Regions from separate parts of the Homo sapiens genome. Here all the other regions are linked to region 2. Evidence: fine-mapped expression QTL. A gene starts in region 2. Each other region holds a variant in brackets. All regions are shown on one strand. Distances are from middle to middle.

Evidence for each region.
Region 1: its variant is fine-mapped to the expression of CNKSR1 in blood mononuclear cells (TOPMed, PIP 0.97).
Region 3: its variant is fine-mapped to the expression of CNKSR1 in whole blood (TOPMed, PIP 0.91).

What each region holds. Positions count from the first base shown.
Region 1 is chr1:26,196,201-26,201,200 of GRCh38, forward strand. CATSPER4 (cation channel sperm associated 4) reads left to right here. Exons shown (of 10, transcript NM_198137.2): 4 at 1,486-1,583; 5 at 1,757-1,877; 6 at 2,086-2,219; 7 at 3,684-3,858; 8 at 4,630-4,841. Among named protein-coding and RNA genes, the nearest start is that of CATSPER4, 8.1 kb to the left of the region's middle. RefSeq lists an enhancer at 1,772-2,271. The variant T/C (reference allele first, on the strand shown) is at 2,692.
Region 2 is chr1:26,173,471-26,180,351 of GRCh38, forward strand. It overlaps CNKSR1 (connector enhancer of kinase suppressor of Ras 1), which reads left to right and starts at 4,021. Exons shown (of 21, transcript NM_006314.3): 1 at 4,021-4,129. The coding sequence starts at 4,078.
Region 3 is chr1:26,268,291-26,275,171 of GRCh38, forward strand. CEP85 (centrosomal protein 85) reads left to right here. Exons shown (of 14, transcript NM_001319944.2): 8 at 193-345; 9 at 1,170-1,324; 10 at 2,724-2,817; 11 at 3,731-3,781; 12 at 6,674-6,781. Among named protein-coding and RNA genes, the nearest start is that of SH3BGRL3, 8.4 kb to the right of the region's middle. The variant T/C (reference allele first, on the strand shown) is at 3,500.

The sequences.
Region 1 (5,000 bases), 22 kb after region 2:
GCAAACTCTTGGCCTCAAGCAATCCTCTCCCGCCAGCCTCTCAAAGCACCAGGATTACAGGCAAGGGTCACCATACCTGGCCTCATTTTTCTTTTTATAGCTACATAGCTACATAGTATTCCATTGATTTAATGGAATTTAATGTGCCATAGTTTATCCAATCAGTCTCTTCTGATCATTTGACACGTTGGTTTTCTTTTCCTTTTTTTTTTTTTTTTTTTTTTTTTTGAGACAGGGTCTCACCCCTGTTGCTCAGGCTGGAGTGCAATGACACCCATTTCGGCTCACTGCAGCCTCGACCTCCTGGGTTCAAGTGATCCTCTCAGCCCTCCAAGTAGCTGGGACTACAGGGGCACATGCCAACACCCCTGTCTAATTTTTATAGTTTTTTGTAGAGACAGGGTTTCACCATGTTGCCCAGGCTGGTCTGGAACTCCTGAGCTCAAGCAATCCTCCCACCTCAGCCTCCCAAAGTGCTGGAATTACAGGCTTGCACCACTGCACCTGGCATGTTGGTTATTCTTAACCTTATACAAATGTAATTTTGTACTTCAACCAGAGTATCTGTGGATCAGATTTCTAGAAGTGTGATCCCTGTTCAGATTTTTCATACCTGTGAGTTTCCTTCTCCTCCCCATCTCATTCCTGTGTAAGTGTCTTATTGGACAAAGGGCTTGCAAAATGTACCAGTCTCCCTTTCTTTCTTTTCTTTCTTTTTTTTTTTTTTTTGAGATTATCACTCTGTCACCCAGGCTGGAGTGCAGTGGCGCAATCTTGGCTCACTGCAACCTCCGCCTCCTGGGTTCAAGCAACTCTCCTGCCTCAGCCTCCCAAGTAGCTGGGACTACAGGCACGTGCCACCATGCCCAGATAATTTTTGTATTTTTAGTAGAGATGGAGTTTCACCATGTTGGCCAGGCTGGTCTCAAACTCCTGACATCGTGATCCACCTGCCTCAGACTCCCAAAGTGCTGGGATTACAGGTGTGAGCCATCGCGCCTGGCCCGCCTGTCTCCCTTTCTTGTGCCGTGAGAGCTATTTCACCTCAGAACTGGCTACTGAAGCAGTATTCCTTATGTTTTTACTAGTATCCATTTTCATTTTATTATTAATTGTAGTGTGTGTCACACAAAGGCAGGAACAGCCAAGTGTTTTCATGTTACCTACCTGTAGGGCAAGGCTGTTTTGAGCATGCTTTAGCCAAGGTGGGCACTCAGCTTAGGGACCAGCCATGTATCTGTAAGGGTCTTTGCTGTGTGTCTCTGAGACTGCATTTGGCTATTGACACATGTATGGGACAGAGAGTACACGTGTGTTTTGTGGCTTGTTTGGGGGGCGGCAGGGTAACAGCAGTGGATGGCAGCTGACTGGCCCTGCTCTGAGAGGGACATTGAGCCCTCATCCCTGGGATGTGGGGAGGGCAGACCTAGGATGCCCCCATGGGCTGGGCCTGACAGACCCCACTGGGGCTGGCCCACTCCCCAGGACGGCTGGAACATCCTCAACTTCATTATCGTCTTTATCTTGCTCTTGCGGTTCTTCATTAATGAAATCAATATTCCCTCCATCAACTACACTCTCAGGTGAGCGGGGAGCTCTGGAGAAATGAGGGGGACCTATCTGGAACCCAGGAATGAGATGGGGGGATAACGACCAGCTGGAGATCAGCTTTGCCTCTCTGGGCAGCTGGTGGGGGTAATGAGGAGGGAAGGGGCTGGGAAGGGCCTAGGGGCACCCCTGACAGGCTCTGCCACAGGGCGCTTCGTCTGGTGCATGTGTGCATGGCGGTGGAGCCCCTCGCCCGGATCATCCGCGTCATCCTGCAGTCGGTGCCTGACATGGCCAATATCATGGTCCTCATCCTCTTCTTCATGCTGGTCAGTGCCTGCCCCCGCCCCCAGCTGTTTCCCTTCCCTGAACAGGGCCCTTGGGTCATTGCAAATAGAGGGGTGTCTGGAAAAGCAGAGAGGCCTGTGGGCCTGAATCCCTGTGATTTCCTCAGCAGCGTTCATTTACATGACATTTGTGTGTCCTATTTCCAGGCCCTTTGGTGAAGTCGGGGTGGGGCTCTTTTCTCTCTGACAGGTTTTTTCCGTGTTTGGAGTAACACTCTTTGGTGCATTCGTGCCCAAGCATTTCCAGAACATACAGGTTGCGCTGTACACCCTCTTCATCTGCATCACCCAGGACGGCTGGGTGGACATCTACAGTGACTTCCAGTGAGTGCCAGTGGGACTTCCAGCCTCATCCCACCTATGGGGCAGGGTAGCCGGTGGAGCTCCAGGCTGAGAGTGGGAGCTCCAGGGATTGGGATGAGGATGGCCCAGTAGAAGTGGGGGTTCCCAGGTCTTTAAACAGAGGAAAAGGAAATACCTGGACTTGTGATACCTGAAGCCTTGTCACCCTTGAATCTCCATATATTCAGAGTCCCATTCCCACCCTGTAATGGGGACCTCTCCCATCATGCTAACCAGCTGGGTAGTTGGCCTTGGATAAGGCAGCAGGTCTGCAGTTATGCCTCAGGTTACAGAGCAACCTCCCAGCCCACCTTGGAGCCCACCAAACTGCCTGAACTCCTGGGAACTTCAGGTCTCATTTCATTCATTCTTAAACCCACTGCCCACATTCATTTTTGTGTTCTGTTCTTTACCTCTTTTCTATTAAGTCTAAGCCCTATTTCTTTCCAGTTTA[T/C]TCCAGAAAGTGGGACCCCTTAACTGATTTCTTTTTATCTTCTACATGTGAGTATAGAAGCCCAGTAGATAAAGGGCTTCTACAGTCATTCTCCATTATGGCATAGGTAGTGGATAAAAATCAGGCTGGCCGGGGCCGGGCGCGGTGGCTCACGCCTGTAATCCCAGCACCTTGGGAGGCCGAGGTGGGCAGCTCACGAGGTCAGATCAAGGCTATCCTGGCTAACACAGTGAAACCCCATCTCTACTAAAAATACAAAAACAAAGCCCAGTGCAGTGGCTCACACCTGTAATCCCAGCACTTTGGGAGGCTGAGGCAGGTGGATCACAAGGTCAGGAGTTCAAGACCAGCCTGGCCAAAAAGGTGAAACCCCGTCTCTACTAAATATACAAAAATTAGCCGGACGGTGGGGCGCCTGTAATCCCAGCTACTCAGGAGGCTAAGGCAGGAGAATCGCTTGAACCTGGGAGGCGGAGGTTGCGGTGAACCCATATCACGCCACTGCACTCCAGCTTAGGTGACAGAGTGAGACTCTGTCTCAAAAAAAAAAAAAAAAAATTAGCCAGGCGTGGTGGCAAGCACCTGTAGTCTCAGCTACTTGGGAGGCTGAGGCGGGAGAACGACATGAACCCAGGAGGTGGAGCTTGCAGTGAGCCGAGATCACGCCACTTCACTCCAGTCTGGGCAACACAGCGAGACTCCATCTCAAAAAAAAAAAAAGGAGTGTAGCTAATAGATTAAACTTAATAGTGTTGATGTGCACGTCCCCACCTTGCAGGGTTGGTTAGAGAATCAGCTCACTGTCTGGCAGCACAGTAGGTGCTTAGTAGAGAGCAGCTATTGAGACAGGAGTAGGGAATGGGATCTGCACAACAGCAGTGACACAGGCAGAAGTTCTAGTAGGCCTTGGGATGATTTTCCCATTTCAATGACAAGGAAACTCAGGCTTGAAGGGCCAGGGAAATGATGGGGCCCCTGCCTGCCATCTGCAGGACAGAGAAGAGGGAATATGCAATGGAGATTGGGGGTGCCATCTACTTTACCATCTTCATCACCATCGGTGCCTTCATTGGCATCAACCTGTTCGTCATCGTGGTGACCACCAACCTGGAGCAAATGATGAAGGCAGGAGAGCAGGGACAACAGCAACGAATAACCTTTAGTGAGGTGCGTGGGATGGGGAGGGCAGAAGGGAGGAAAAGGAGTGTGTATGAGAGCGGACTTGAACATATGTGCATGTATGTGTGTGCTTGCATAATCAAGGGCCTGGAGAAAGCCAAGTTGGAGGCCTGGAGGCAGCAGCCCCCCATCTTGAGTGCCCACCCACCAACTGGGGCTTCTGAGGGGTGTGGATTTTCTAGATGTTAGATTTCTATGGCAACTCAAAACTGAGCAGCTGGGTGACCTTGGGGCATTTACCCACTCTAAGCCTCAATTTTTTTCTTTTGTAAAATGGGAATAATAATAGTACTTAACTCATAGGGTTATTTTATGAGGGTTAATGGGTAAATGAACAGTGCTTGGCGCATAGTAAGCACTCAATAAATGTTAGCTACGGTATTATTCATTCAGGGCAGTACTTCCATAAGGTTGGGGAAAGGGGTGGAGTACTTCTAAAAGAGTGGAGTGCTGGAGGCCTGGGCTTGAGGGTAGGCAGGGCTTTATAAATTTGCTGGGTAGGGTTTATCAGGGTTGAAATCTGGGGCAGGGCTAAATTTTGAAATGGGGTGAGAATTTTTAAAGAGGTGGGGGGAGGTCATGTGCATTTAAAGTTGGGTTCCCCCAGCAAGGCAGTGAGGCTAAGATTGGTGAGAGCTGAAATGAGGGCCTTAGAACCCTGGGGTCCTAAGAGACTCATCCTGAAGCCAAGCAGGAAAAGGGTGCCGGGGGCGTGCCTGCCTGAGCTGTCCCGACCCCTCTCTATCCCCCGCTTCCCAGACAGGCGCAGAGGAAGAGGAGGAGAATGACCAGCTGCCACTGGTGCATTGTGTGGTCGCCCGCTCGGAGAAATCTGGTCTCCTCCAGGAACCCCTTGCGGGAGGCCCCCTGTCGAACCTCTCAGAAAACACGTGTGACAACTTTTGCTTGGTGCTTGAGGCAATACAGGAGAACCTGAGGCAGTACAAGGAGATCCGAGATGAACTCAACATGTAGGGGAGGGTACTGGGGCTGCCCCCAAGTCATGTGAGTCAAGGCTGGGCGGAGCGTCAGAGTCTTCTGGCCTCACGCCCTCACCATTTATAAGGCAGAGCCTGGGCCCCACAGAGGTCCCCCACCCTATTGGTGGAGGAACTGGAATCCAGACTCCA
Region 2 (6,881 bases):
ATGAAACCCTTTAAAATAGAAGTTGTCAGCCGGGCGTGGTGGTTTACGCCTGTAATCCCAGCACTTTGAGAGGCCGAGGCAAGGAGATCACTTGAGGTCAGGAGTTTGAGACCAGCCTGGTCAACATGGTGAAACCCCATCTCTACTAAAAATACAAAATTAGCCGAGCATGGTGGCACACGCCTGTAATCCCAGCTACTTGGGAGGCAGAGGCAGGAGAATAGCTTGAACCTGGGAGGCGGAGGTTGCAGTGAGCCAAGATCATGCCATTGCACTCCAGCCTGGGCAACAAGAGCAAAGCTCTGTCTCAAAAAAATAGATAAAAATAAATAGAAGCTGCCACTTACTGTGTTCCTAACTGCCTAACCCTGGCAGATGCTGGGAGCGTAGAGTAAAGGCGCCGTGGTTCAGGGAGAGAGGGGGCTGGTTCTCACCTCTGGTGGCAGCTCAGGAAAGATATTTGATGAAATCAAGATCTGTCTACCGAACACTGATAAAGGCTCTATTAGAATTTACTGGACTTCCCCAGAGTGCCACAGGGAGGCTGCTGCATGAAGAGGCAAAAATGTTAAACGAGGATGCAGCACGGAGTGTTCAAGGGACACAGACCTGAGGCAAAAGACAAAGCTGGAGACGGGCATTTTGCAAATTTGAAGCCAACTGGCTCACAAAATGAAAGAGGCTGTTAATACCAAGTGTGAAGGTGGGATGGCATCACCAGAGCTGGCCAAGTTCAGAGAAGCTGGAAATCTCAATTTGGATGTGACGTTATTAAATGATGACAACACACGTACACTACATGGGCCAACCATGGGCGAAATTCAGACTTTGGGTCTCTGGGTTACAGGTAAGGTCGTGACAGGCTTTGATGACTGGGGGTGCTGCAGAAATTCTGAAGTAGGTGACAACAGGTAGCTCCTCCCCACAGAATTAAAGCAATAATAACTCATATCTACCCCATGATACAGATTTCAAAGTACTTAATGTCATCACAGTGCTAAGGCCTAGGAATCCCCTTCTGGAGACAAAGAAACAGATTCAGAGAGCTGTAGAAGTTGGGCTGAGTCACATAGCAGTTGAGTATGGAACTGATTTTATCTGATTTTTTTTTTTTTTGAGACAGAGTTTTGCTCTTGTTGCCCAGGTTGGAGTGCAGTGGCGCAATCTCGGCTCACTGCAACCTCTGCTTCCGGGTTCAAGCAATTCTCCTGTCTCAGCCTTCCGAGTTGCTGGGATTATAGGCGCCCGCCACCACGACCGGCTAATTTTTTGGATTTTTAGTACAGACAGGGCTTCTCTATGTTGGCCAGGCTGATCTCGAACTCCTGACCTCAGATGATCCACCCGCCTTGGCCTCCCAAAGTGCTGGGATTACAGGCATGAGCCACCGCGCCCGGCCTTTTTTTTTTTGAGGTGGAGTTTCACTTTTGTTGCCCAGGCTGGAGTGCAATGACGCGATCTCAGCTCACCGCTACCTCTACCTCATGAGTTCAAGCAATTCTCCTGCCTCAGCCTCCCGAGTACCTGGGATTACAGGCATGTGCCACCACACCCGGCTAATTTTGTATTTTTAGTAGAGATGGGGTTGCTCCATGTTGGTCAGGCTGGTCTCGAACTCCTGACCTCAGGTGATCCGCCCGCATAGGTCTCCTGAAGTGCTGGGATTACAGGCCTGAGCCACCACGCCCGGCTGATTTTATCTGATTCTAAAGTCCTGGGAGTCCCCTGACCTGATGATGATGATGAAAATGAACATTTACTATGTGTCAGATATTTTTCTAAGATTAAAGCTCTTGCTCTGAGGTTCAGAATTCAGGGGATCCATAAACTTGGATGGGAAAAAATTATATTTTTATTTTTGCTAAACTCTAACCAAAATTTATGATTTCCTTCTATATGGATTGAAGCAGTAGCAGTATCTTTGGCTTAGTCACCAATAGAAATCACATATTTTCATATCAAATTGTAGTTATTGCAAGTATCTCAAAATATTTATGCTCAAGTGATTTCAAAATCACAGTGGTTGTTAAACCACCACTAAATTGTTCGTGAGCAACTTCTGTTTCAGATGCTCCTGTGATGTAGCCGCCATTAATTGGTTACCTCCAGGCTTAGCAGTGGTTCAGTGACCAAAGGGCGAATCTGCCTGTTCTGAGTAGGGCTTCTCCACTCTTCTGCATTCCCTGTCTTTTTTTTTTTTTTTTTGAGACGAAGTCTTGCTCTGTCGCCCAGGCTAGAGTGCAGTGGCGCGAACTCGGCTCACTGCAAGCTCTGCCTCCTGGGTTCACGCCATTCTCCTGCCTCAGCCTCCTGAGTAGCTGGGACTACAGGCGCCCGCCACCATGCCTGGCTAATTTTTTGTATTTTTAGTAGAGACGGGGTTTCACCATGTTAGCCAGGATGGTCTCGATCTCCTGACCTCATAATCCGCCCGTCTCGATTATAGGCGTGAGCCACCATGCCCGGCCCAGCATTCCCTGTTTTTAGTTGTTTGCTGATCAATATGTAAGAGGAGGGGCGTCAAAGACCACCCCACAGTTTAATGTCCTTATTCAAGCTGGTCGACAACACACTGAGGTCATTAAAAAAGAAAAATTTAACTTTCGGCCAGTCTTATTAATGTTAGTAAACACATAATATAAATTTCTGGTTTTATTTTTTTGAGATGGGCTCCTGCTATGTTGCCCAGGGTGGCTTTGACTCCTGGGCTTGAGTGATACTCCCCCGCTCAACCTCTCAACCTCTCGAGTAGCTGGGACTACAGTCGTGTGCCAGCACTCCCCAGCTCCAAATTTTTTTTTTGTTTTTTGTGGGTTTTTTTTTTGAGACGGAGTCTTGCTTTGTTGCCAGGCTGGAGTGCAGAGGCGTGATCTCAGCTCACTGCAACCTCCGCCTCCCAGGTTCAAGCGATTCTCCTGCCTCAGCCTCCTGAGTAGCTGTGACTACAGGCGTGCACCACCACACCCAGCTAATTTTTGTATTTTTAGTAGAGACGGGGTTTCACCATGTTGGGCAGGCTGGTTTCCATCTCTTAACCTCATGATCCACCCGCCTTGGCCTTCCAAAGTGCTGGAATTACAGGCGTGAACCACCATGCCCGGCCAAATTTGTTTTTAAATATAGTTTTGATAATTGTTCTCATTGTAATCCTAAGCATTTTGTTTTGTGCATTTATTTATTTATTTATAATACAGAGTTTTGCTCTGTTGCCCAGGCTGGAGTGCAGTGGCACGATCTTGGCTCACTGGAACCTCCCCCTCCTGGGTTCAAGGGATTCTCCTGCCTCAGCCTCCTGAGTAGCTGGGATTACAAGCACCCACTACGCCCAGCTAATTTTTTGTATTTTTAGTAGAGATGGTGTTTCACCATATTGGCCAGGCTGGTCTTGAACTCCTGATCTCAAGTGATCCGCCCACCTCGGCCTCCCAAAGTGCTGGGATTACAGGCGTGAGCCACCGCGCCCGGCCTGTTTTATGCCTTTATAAGCAGCTATTCTGAGAAAGCATTCACAGGCCTCACCAGATGCCAGAGTCCATACTGCAAAATCCAAGGGAGGCTAAACACCCCAGTTCTAAATGTTTTCAAGCCATTCAGATACTGTGCACAGCTGCCCTTTGAAGTACGGTCTATTATATCTCTTTTACAGACCCAGAAACTGAGGCGCAGAAGTTAGGGTCAGCCCCAGGTCACACAGCTAACAAGAGCTGGCCTAGGCACCCAGGGACCTGGCCCCCTAGCCTCTGTGCTTTGCTACTGATTTCAGCGCTCCTCTTGTGGCTTTTTCTTGAGGAGCCCAAGGGTCAGGGTCCCACCCCGCGATATGAGGCCAGTGGCACTGCCCCCTAGCAGGCGCGAGATGCCAGAGCCCTAGGATGTCTGAAGGGCCGGGCAGGAGGCGGACGGGCGTGGGCCAATGGCTGTCGCAGTGCCTCATCTTGCCGTCTGTGTGAGCCCAGGTATGCAGTAGGCTCCGCCCAGGACCCAGCCCGGCCCCTCCTTAGGCCTGGGCTCTGGGAGCGGAAATTCCGGCGACAGCAGGGCAAAACAGGAGCTGATTCGAGCTGGCAGAGCTGGGCCATGGAACCGGTAGAGACCTGGACCCCCGGAAAGGTGGCAACTTGGCTGAGAGGTGGGTGGGGCTGGGGTAGAGTTGGGCTTGAAGGGGACTAGGTGTGGTGTCCCACCGGGAAGCGGGAGGAGAGGAAAAGGAAAAAAAATCTGCGGACTGGGTGCGCTGGTTCACACCTGTAATCCCAGCACTTTGGGAAGCCAAGGTGGGTGGGTCACCTGAGGTCGGGAGTTCAAGACCAGCATGGTGAAACCCCGTCTCTACTAAAAATACAAAAATTATCTGGGGGTGGTGGCAGGTGCCTGTAATCCCAGCTACTTGGGAGGCTGAGGCAGGAGAATCGCTTGAACCCAGGAGGCAGAGGTTACAGTGAGCCGAGATTGCACCGCTGCACTCCAGTCTGGACGACAGAGCGAGATTCAGCTCAAAAGAAAAAAAAAAATAATAAACTGCGGGCTCTATCAGTCGGTCAGTCAGTCAACAAATATTTACAGAGCACCTAACATGTTCCAGGAACCGTGCTGGGCAGAGAGACAGATGAGATGACCCTGGGGGGCCCAAGGACCCAGAAGGGGGCCCCTCATCATGGCAGTAGCCCAAGAGGCCTCTAGGGTGATAATGGGGAGGCGGTGTCATGAAAACAGGAGGGAGGCCTGACAGGCCCACACCCACTGTATCTCCTTCATCTTCCCTGGCCCCAGGGCCAGTGGGCTGTTGTTAAATCCGTTTCTTAGAGTCAGAAACTGACACACAGAGCCAGGAAATGATTTGCTCAGTCTCTGGTGTCATTTTCCCCGCTCCACACCCTGAGCTCCTAGTGACAGAAGCAGAAGCCCTAGGCCAGACTGAAGAGGTTGACACAGCCCCACCCTGGGGCTCCTATCCAAGGGGCAAGGTGCTGTCCAGGCTCAGCGAGCCCACACAGATGGGAAGCAACACACCCCACAGGCAGACTCAGAGAAGGAAGGGCCTCCTGACACACAGTGCGACCAGGAGCAGGCAGTCAGGACACCCCTCCCAGAGTGGGGAGCTGGAGCGCACTAGAGACAGGCTCAGGAGGACCAGCCCGGGTAAGGGCAGGAATTCAGGGCTGGGTTCAGACTCCCAGGCTGGATTCCAGGCCCACCCCCACCGCTTGCCAGCTCTGTGACCATAGGTCTTAGTTTTTCTGTCCATCAAATGGGAAAGGCAACTCTGACCTTATGAAGTCGACAAAGTGAGACAATCATGACATAGTTCATTTGTAGCTCAATGCCTGGGTCTATTGGGAGGGCACCAGCCCAATACAGTCACCGTGCAGGAAGGAGGTGGCTCAGGGGCCCATAGCCAGGGAGTGATAGGTTCATGAACTCCCAGTCCAGTGCTCTCAATGTGACACAGGGAACACACACACACACCTCCCCCAGTGAAGGAGCCTGGCTTAGAAGGGGAAGAATTCCTTCGAAGAGTGAGCAAGCTACTTAACCTCTGTGTCAGTTTTCCCATCTGTAAGCAGGATAATGATAGTCTTTACCTCCTAGAAATGCAGTGAGAATCAAATGTGTTAATATGTGTAAAGCTCTTATAGATTTGCATAGCACATAGTAAGCCCTCAATAGACACTTTTCTTATTTTTCAGTGCCTACCTTGTCCAGGCACAGGCCGGGGGTTAGAGACAAATGGTTATCTAAGGCCTGATCTTTGAAGAGCCTGTGATAAAATGGGAAAGACCGATGGTCAAGTGCAGGGGTTTGTGGAGGCTCAGGGGCAGTGGGAACAAGAGGAGAGCCCTCCATCCCACTCAGCCTGGGAAGTTATGGAAGGCTTCCTGGAGGAAGTTAGATGAAAAAGGAAGTGAAGGAGATAGAAGAGCAACGCCAGCAGGAGGAATAGCACTTGCAAGGACGCTGAGGTAAAAGGGTGTTCCAGGAGCTGCAAGGAATTAGCTCTGTGCATCTGAAATGTTGAGTTTAGGGGGCTCTTCAGGATATGATGCTGGAAAGGGAGGTAGTAGCCTAATCATACAGGGCCTGTAGGTCATGGTAAAGTCTGGCAATAATAATATGATGGCTATTATTGGCTGTCTCCCACGAACCAGACAGTGGCCAAGGCCTTGACATATGTTGTGTCATTCAATACACACATGATTAGAAGGTAGGTACTTTTATTATTCTCACATTACAGGTGAGAAAACTGGGCACAGAGCAGTGCTATTACTTGCTCAAGTGTTCACAGTGTCTCAGTGACTCCATAGCCTCTTGTTCTTATCCCCTGTATCATTAGTTCTCAAACTTAAGGGAGCATCACAGTCACCTGCATTAAAATACAAACTGCTGGCTGGGCGTCGTGGCTCACACCTGTAATTCTAGCACTTTCAGAGACTGAGGCAGTCAAATTGCTTGAGCCCAGGAGTTCGAGACTAGCCTGGGCAACATGGTGAAATCCCACCTCTGCAAAAAATACAAAAATTAGCTGGGTGTGGTGGTGTGTGCCTGTAGTCCCAGCTACTTGGGAGGCTGAGGTGGGAGGATGGATTGAGCCTAGGAGGTCAAGGCTGCAGTGAGCCGTGACTGTGTCTCAAGCCCCTGTCTCAAAAAGAAAAAACAAAACAAAAACAAAAAAAAGACTGCTGGGCCCCAACCTCAGAGTTTCTGATTCAGCAGGTGTGGGGTGAGGCCTGATAATTTGCATTTCTAACAAGTTCTCCGGTGAGTCTGCTGCTGCTGGTCTGGGGGCCACTTTTAAGAACCCATGTCCTATACTTTCCTGCTTCTCAACTCAGTGGCCTCATCTGTGAAATGGGCAGAACAGCCTGGGTGTCAGAGTTGTCATT
Region 3 (6,881 bases), 95 kb after region 2:
CTACAAAACATAGAAAAATTAGCCTGCCGTGGTAGTGTGTGCCTGCAGTCCCAGCTACTCCAGGGGCTGAGGTAGGAGGATCACTTGAGCCTGGGAGGTGGAGGCTGCAGTCAGCTGAGATCACAGCACTGCACTCCAGCAGGGTCATAGTGGAGTGAATGGTGGAGACAGACTTGACATTTATTTTCCTAGGTCAAAGGTCGTGATAAACATATCAATAATTTGAAAAAGAAATGCCAGAAGGAATCAGAGCAGAACCGGGAGAAGCAGCAGCGTATTGAGACCTTGGAGCGCTACCTGGCTGACCTGCCCACACTGGAAGACCATCAGAAGCAGAGCCAGCAGGTAGCAGCAATGTCTTGGCATGCCTGGGGTGATCAGGGAGTGGCCAGGCAGGGGAACTTTTTCATCATCTGCTGTATGCAGTTATCCTGTGACTTGCTGAAAGGAGAATCCCAAAGCAGTCATGTCCAGATTCATAATTGTCAGATTTGTAACCAGACTGCAAATTTTTTGAGGTACCCAGACAGAGTCTTCCTTATGTTAAAGTGAACCCCAAGTTTCTCTTCAAAGAATCAGTAAGTTCAGGTCTCTTACTCTTTGATTCACTATTTTAAAGTTTAACTTCCTGGTTCTCTTCGCCCTCTTGCTTCTAGTTTCAGTAAACAACCTTTTCCACCAGTTTTAATCAGTAGTTCACATCTGTTCCCCCGGTCACCTACTCCGTCCTGACTCATCCCGGTCACCTGCTTTGACCTGAGTCACCCTGGTCACCTGCTCTGACCTAAGTCACCTTTAATTACCTGTTCCTAACTGTCCTTCCCACCAAACTACTCACCCCACCACTCTGGCTCATAAACCTGTTCCCTTTAAAATAGCCAATCAGAATTAGCTTAGACTGTGTGGTTCAACCCTAGCCAATAGGGGAACGACATAGCAGTAGGGACTACCTGCGTCAGAAATAAGAACTCCTTCCCCTCCCCTGTCCAGTTGTGTTCTCACCATTGTTCCATCTGCGAGGAGCACCCTTTCTGCAGAAAGTAAAAATTGCCTTGCTGAGGAAATTAAATATAGGTTTGAGTGCTATTTCTTTGTGACACCGAGGAACAAGCATTTTGCATTTATAACACTTGGCTTATTTGACCTAAACATGGGATCCTGTCTCTCAGCTTAAGGATTCTGAGTTGAAGAGCACAGAGCTGCAGGAGAAAGTGACTGAGCTGGAGAGTTTGCTGGAGGAGACCCAGGCAATCTGCAGAGAGAAGGAGATTCAACTGGAAAGCCTGAGGCAGAGAGAAGCAGAATTCTCCTCCGCTGGACATAGGTAAATAACCCTGTGGGACTGAGAGGAGTGGAGAGTTAAGTTTTTTGTCATAGCCATCCTGCTCACTTACCTGTGTGACTTTGGGTGATTTGGGAAAATCATTTTACTTATCTGAGCTTTGTTTTCTTTGGACTGTGAATAATAGGAAAGCTGCTTATGGGAAGCGGCTTTTTTTTTTTTTTTTTTTTTTGAGACGGAGTCTTGCTCTGTCGCCCAGGCTGGAGTGCAGTGGTGCAATCTTGGCTCACTGCAAGCTCCGCCTCCCAGGTTCACACCATTCTCCTGCCTCAGCCTCCTGAGTAGCTGGGACTACAGGCGCCCGCCACTGCGCCTGGCTAATCTTTTTTGTATTTTTAGTAGAGACGGGGTTTCACCGTGGTCTCGATCTCCTGACCTCGTGATCCACCCTCCTTGGCCTCCCAAAGTGCTGGGATTACAGGTGTGAGCCACCGCGCCCGGCCAGGAAGCGGCTTTTATATCTTTGGCATGGAGTATGGATGCAGTGGGGGCTTATCTTCATAGCCTTTGTAAGGATCTAACCCAGTGCCTGGCACATAATTCTTAGTATGTATGTGTTGAATAAATGAAAGCACTTTGTAAACTGGGAAATGAGGTGTCTGTATACTTTCAAAAGTGGGTACTGGTGATAAGAACTGAGAGTTATCCACAGTTCGAGCTGTGTAGGCTAAAGGCTACCAGGAGCCTTTCTCCTCAGCCCTAGGGATTGTTCTCCATTGCCATGACAGGTTCTGAGAACAAAACAAGATGCCATAATGTACTCTCAGGATGTCTTGGGAGCCTTCTCCATATTAATAGCAGTTTCTGAAAATAATGGTGTGTTTCAACAGCCTCTTGGACCAAATCCAGTTTCTAATGGGATAGATTGGATTTCTCATCCCATATTTAACCACAGTGTCCCTGTTGTTTATCTCAGCAGATGGGCTTTGCTATAAGTAATTGTAGGGACCCACTGGAGGAAACCATTGGTTAGAGTCAGAAGTGGGGTTAGAGGACAAAGTTGGCTTTGCCCCAGACTGTGTGTGCCAAGAAAACAGCTTTTGTATTTTCCAAACTTTCTACAATGTACATGTATGACTTACAATCTAAATACATGTGATAAATATGTATTTTTTAAATATCAAAACAAAATACACAAGAGCCTTGGGCAGGTAGAGAATTGGTGTCACATTGTATAGATTCTGGCCCTTAGGGAAGAGAATTAACATACACTGAGCAGCTTTTGTGTGGCACCCCATATATTACAGCAGACCCAAGTATTATCCCCAGCTACTGCTTGGACTAAGTGTCTTGCCTCAAAATGTGCAATAAGTAGCAGAACCAAGAATCAAAGCCACTTGTGTCTAACTTCAGAGTTCTTGAAGAGGCCACTGTCTTTCAGCCTGCAAGATAAACAGTCTGTGGAGGAGACCAGTGGAGAAGGTCCAGAAGTGGAAATGGAGTCCTGGCAGAAGCGATACGATTCGCTCCAAAAGGTGACTGAGGGTGTCCAGGCTGTAACGGAGGGTAGGCTGGGAGGAAAGAGAAGATTGTGTATTAGGAGGGATACGTGAATTCTTGGCTTTGGGCTATCTAGGATTTGTTACCAAGAGCTTTTCTTTCTTTTCGGAGAAGTCACCCTGCATAGTAATTTGTATTTAGATAGTCATCCTTGTAACAGGCAAACTTCACTCATTTAGAATATAGGCAAAAGTAAGAGGAGGGGTGATATGCCTCTGAATATCTAGATTAGATGACCCAAAATGGTGCAGTAAAGTTTGGTGCACTTTATTCATGGCTCAGGCCCATACAGAAACCCTTGAATTGAACAGAGTTCTAACCAGTGAGGTGCCCTGGTTTCTTAATTCAGCAAAGACGAGAGAGCCAGGGGCCGGCTGGTGAAACTGACTGCAGGTTAGTAAAAAAAAAAGAAGACCCATAAATGATTCAAAGAAACCAGGCCTATTTAGGGTCCCTTCTTGGATAATCAGTACGACCAGAGCTGTAAATAACAACAACCATCATAGTGCTAGAAATGGCAAGCTTCATTAGACTGAATTTTTAGCCATGTCCTTGTACCAAAGAACAAGAGTTTGCACTGGCTGTTTATAAAATTGATTCCACTGGCCTGCAGTTATTAGGGTGAGAGTTCCCTTTCCCCCAGTAGTGGTTATGTGT[T/C]CACACTACATTCCTGTATAAACCTTTGTGATTGGAGCACAACTGTGAAGCTAGTTAGCCAGGATTAGGAGTCTGGTTTATATTCCTATAGGTAGAGTTCACTAATCTTTATCCTGGTCTTACTCTTAATGGTCTAATAGCCAGACCACATGTCCTAGTGCAGCCCCCTTGCCCTCTGTCCTCACCGTCAGCCTTGTGCTCGCAGCCTTCCTTGATAACTTTGCCTTTCAGATTGTGGAGAAGCAGCAGCAGAAGATGGATCAGTTGCGCTCACAAGTACAGGTGAGCAGGAATCCTTGGGACATGGTGGGCAGAACTTAATGATGGAATCTCTAGAATTTAGCCAATATTTATTTTGTTCTCTGCCATGCAGGTTGCTCAGTGTTAGGGATACAAAAAGAATGAGACCCAGTCAGTGCTTTTGAGCCTTGCTGAGAGGACACAAATATAGTAGGGAGTTTCAGCACAGTACTGTGAGAGCAGTCCCCACAGTATCCTGGGGGAGTGCAGGAGAGTCAGTGGGAGGAAGGGAGGTAAAAGAGAGGTTTCTGGAGATCCTGAACCTACAAGGATGAGGAGTTAGCCAGGCAAACAAGAGGAGCTGGATAGGATGTGTTGGATTCCAGATAGGAGGAACAGCATGAGTGGGAACATGGAGACATGAAACAGCATAGTTTGAATGTGGTGCTGCAAGCAGTTTGATACTGCTGACGTATCCACTTTAAGATGGTAAATGGAGACCTGGGCATTCCAGGCTATGGAAGGGCCTTATCTATCAACTAAGTTAGCTTTTATTCTTTATGTAGGTGGTGGGCATCTATTACAGCATTTTTTTTTTTTTTTTTTTTTTTTTTTGGAGACAGAGTCTCGCTCTTGTCGCCCAGGCTGGAGTGCAATGGCGCAATCTCGGCTCACTGTAACCTCTGCCTCCCAGGTTCAAGCAATTCTCCTGCCTCAGCCTCCCGAGTAGCTGGTATTACGGGTGCCCACCATCACGCCCGGCTAATTTTTGTATTTTTTGTAGAGACGGGGTTTCACCACGTTGGCCAGACTGGTCTCGAACTCCTGACCTCAGGTGATCTGCCCGCCTCGGCCTCCCAAAGTGCTGGGATTACAGGCGTGAGCCATCATGCCCAGCCTATTACAGCATGTAATTGGGATGTGATGTGGTCAGGTTTGCAACTCAGGCTCAAGTGTGGAAGATTGGCATCCTGGAGAGAAGAAAGGTCCAGGGGGACTGTTGGAGAAATTCTCGTGAGAGGTGATGAGGGAACCTGGCATAAGGCAGCATAGCAGCGAGGAGATGTGAGGGGACAGATTTAAGTGACTTTAGGAGGTAACATCAAGCGGAATCAGTGACTGACAAGATGTAGGGGTTGAAGAATAGGGAAGAATCAAATATGACTCCAGGTTTCTATTTTGGGCCAGAGTGGGAGTGTCTTTAACTGGGTTCTCCAAGAAATTCTGGGTAAAGCAGGTTCACTCAGCGTCTCTTTGGACTCTAAAAGTTTTCACACCAAAACACCCGAAATGCACTCGTTTTGAGGGAATAAGTGGAGGCTGCAGTCTTGCCTTTGCCATTATGTGGATTGGGCTACGTCTATCTGGTTCACCTCTTTCAAGTCCTGTAAGGAGGTAGTCAAGCCTGGCAAGCATTTTAATACATACCCATTTAAAATCCCAGGTTTTTAGTAGAGTTTTTAATGGATCTCAAAATAGGTTTCCTAGAACCCTTGGGGTTCTGCAAAGTTTGGAAAAGCCTGACATTTTAAATGGCACATTTACCTATGATAAGACTACTTAGGCAAATTAAAATATCAGGTGAGGCCGGACACGGTGGCTCACGCCTGTAATCCCAGCACTTTGGGAGGCCGAGGTGGGCAGATCACAAGGTCAGGAGATTGAGACCATCCTGGCTAACAAGGTGAAACCCTGTCTCTACTAAGAATACAAAAAGATTAGCTGGGCGTGGTGTCATGCACCTGTAGTCCCAGCTACTTGGGAGGCTGAGGCAGGAGAATTGTTTGAACCTGGGAGGTGGAGGTTGCAGTGAGCCGAGATCACGCCACTGCACTCCAGCCAGTCTGGGCGACAGAGTGAAACCCCATCTCAAAATAAATAAATAAATAAATAAATAAATAAAATATATATATATATGTGAATTTGTTGGAATTAGATGGATTCATCATAGTCACTTTGGCTATTTCATGATCATGAGGTGTTTTCCTTAGCAGTTTTTTTTTTTATTAATACCAAATGAGAAATATAAAAAAATTTTCACACTTCATTCAAATCAGTTTCAAAATTTGAGGAAAAATTGAATGAAGAGAATGAGAGGCAGAAGTTTAAAAGCTTAAATATCTCCCTTCCCCTGACCGCTCCTACACACACAAACACAGACACACTTACACACAACTCACTAGATTAGGTACCTGTGAGTATGCTCTTCTACCCCTTTCCATGTCTCTGAACAGCATTTAGTAGACAGTATTGTCAAGAGCACTTGACTGTTAACTCCTAAAAGACAGGAACTGTTTGGTGTTCTTCTCAATGCTGGTCACAGTAAGTGCTCGGTAAATAGTGAACTCAGCTGAATAGCACATTCCCTGCCCTCAAGAAAGTTATGTTTGAGTGGAGCGAAGGATCATGTGCATAGCCAACTAGAATATTAAGCAGATGTACTCGTAAGCCATGATGGATATGATAGCAAGGTAGGATTAGGATTAATTAGATCTGATTTGCAGATTGAAGACAGCTCAGGTGTGCCTTGGAGGTTTCCTGGAGGTAACAGCAGAAGAGCAGCTTGAAGAAAGGAAAAGAGAAGTGAGCAGAAGCATTGACACTGCAGCCTTCAGGGATGAGGGCCAGTCATTCATCGTGACGGTGTAGAGGCTGGCCATGTGGAGGGTGGAAAGAGATATGACTAGAAAAGTAGGTAGGAGCTACAGTGGCCTTGAATGCCCTGCTAAGAAGCTGACCTCTATTTGGTATGTGGTCAAGGGCTATAGGAGGGTTTAAATGGGAGGTCACAAATCAGGACTGTTCTAAAATGATTTCTTATGAGGGTGTAGGTAGGGTGAGTCGTCACTATATAGTCCAAGCCAGCGGTGATATTGTCTGAACCAGACTTGTTACCCCTACTGTGTTCCCTCAACATCTTGCTGTGTGATTCAGAGCCTAGAGCAGGAAGTGGCTCAAGAAGAAGGAACAAGCCAGGCCCTGAGAGAGGAGGCCCAGCGAAGGGATTCAGCCCTGCAGCAGCTGCGCACAGCCGTGAAGGAGGTGAGCAACATTAGTCAGACCTCTTGGTTTTGCCTCCACAAACCCGATTTCTTTGTTTGCCCTCCCCATCTCTACCCCAATAAGAGCCCCAGTGTTTGAA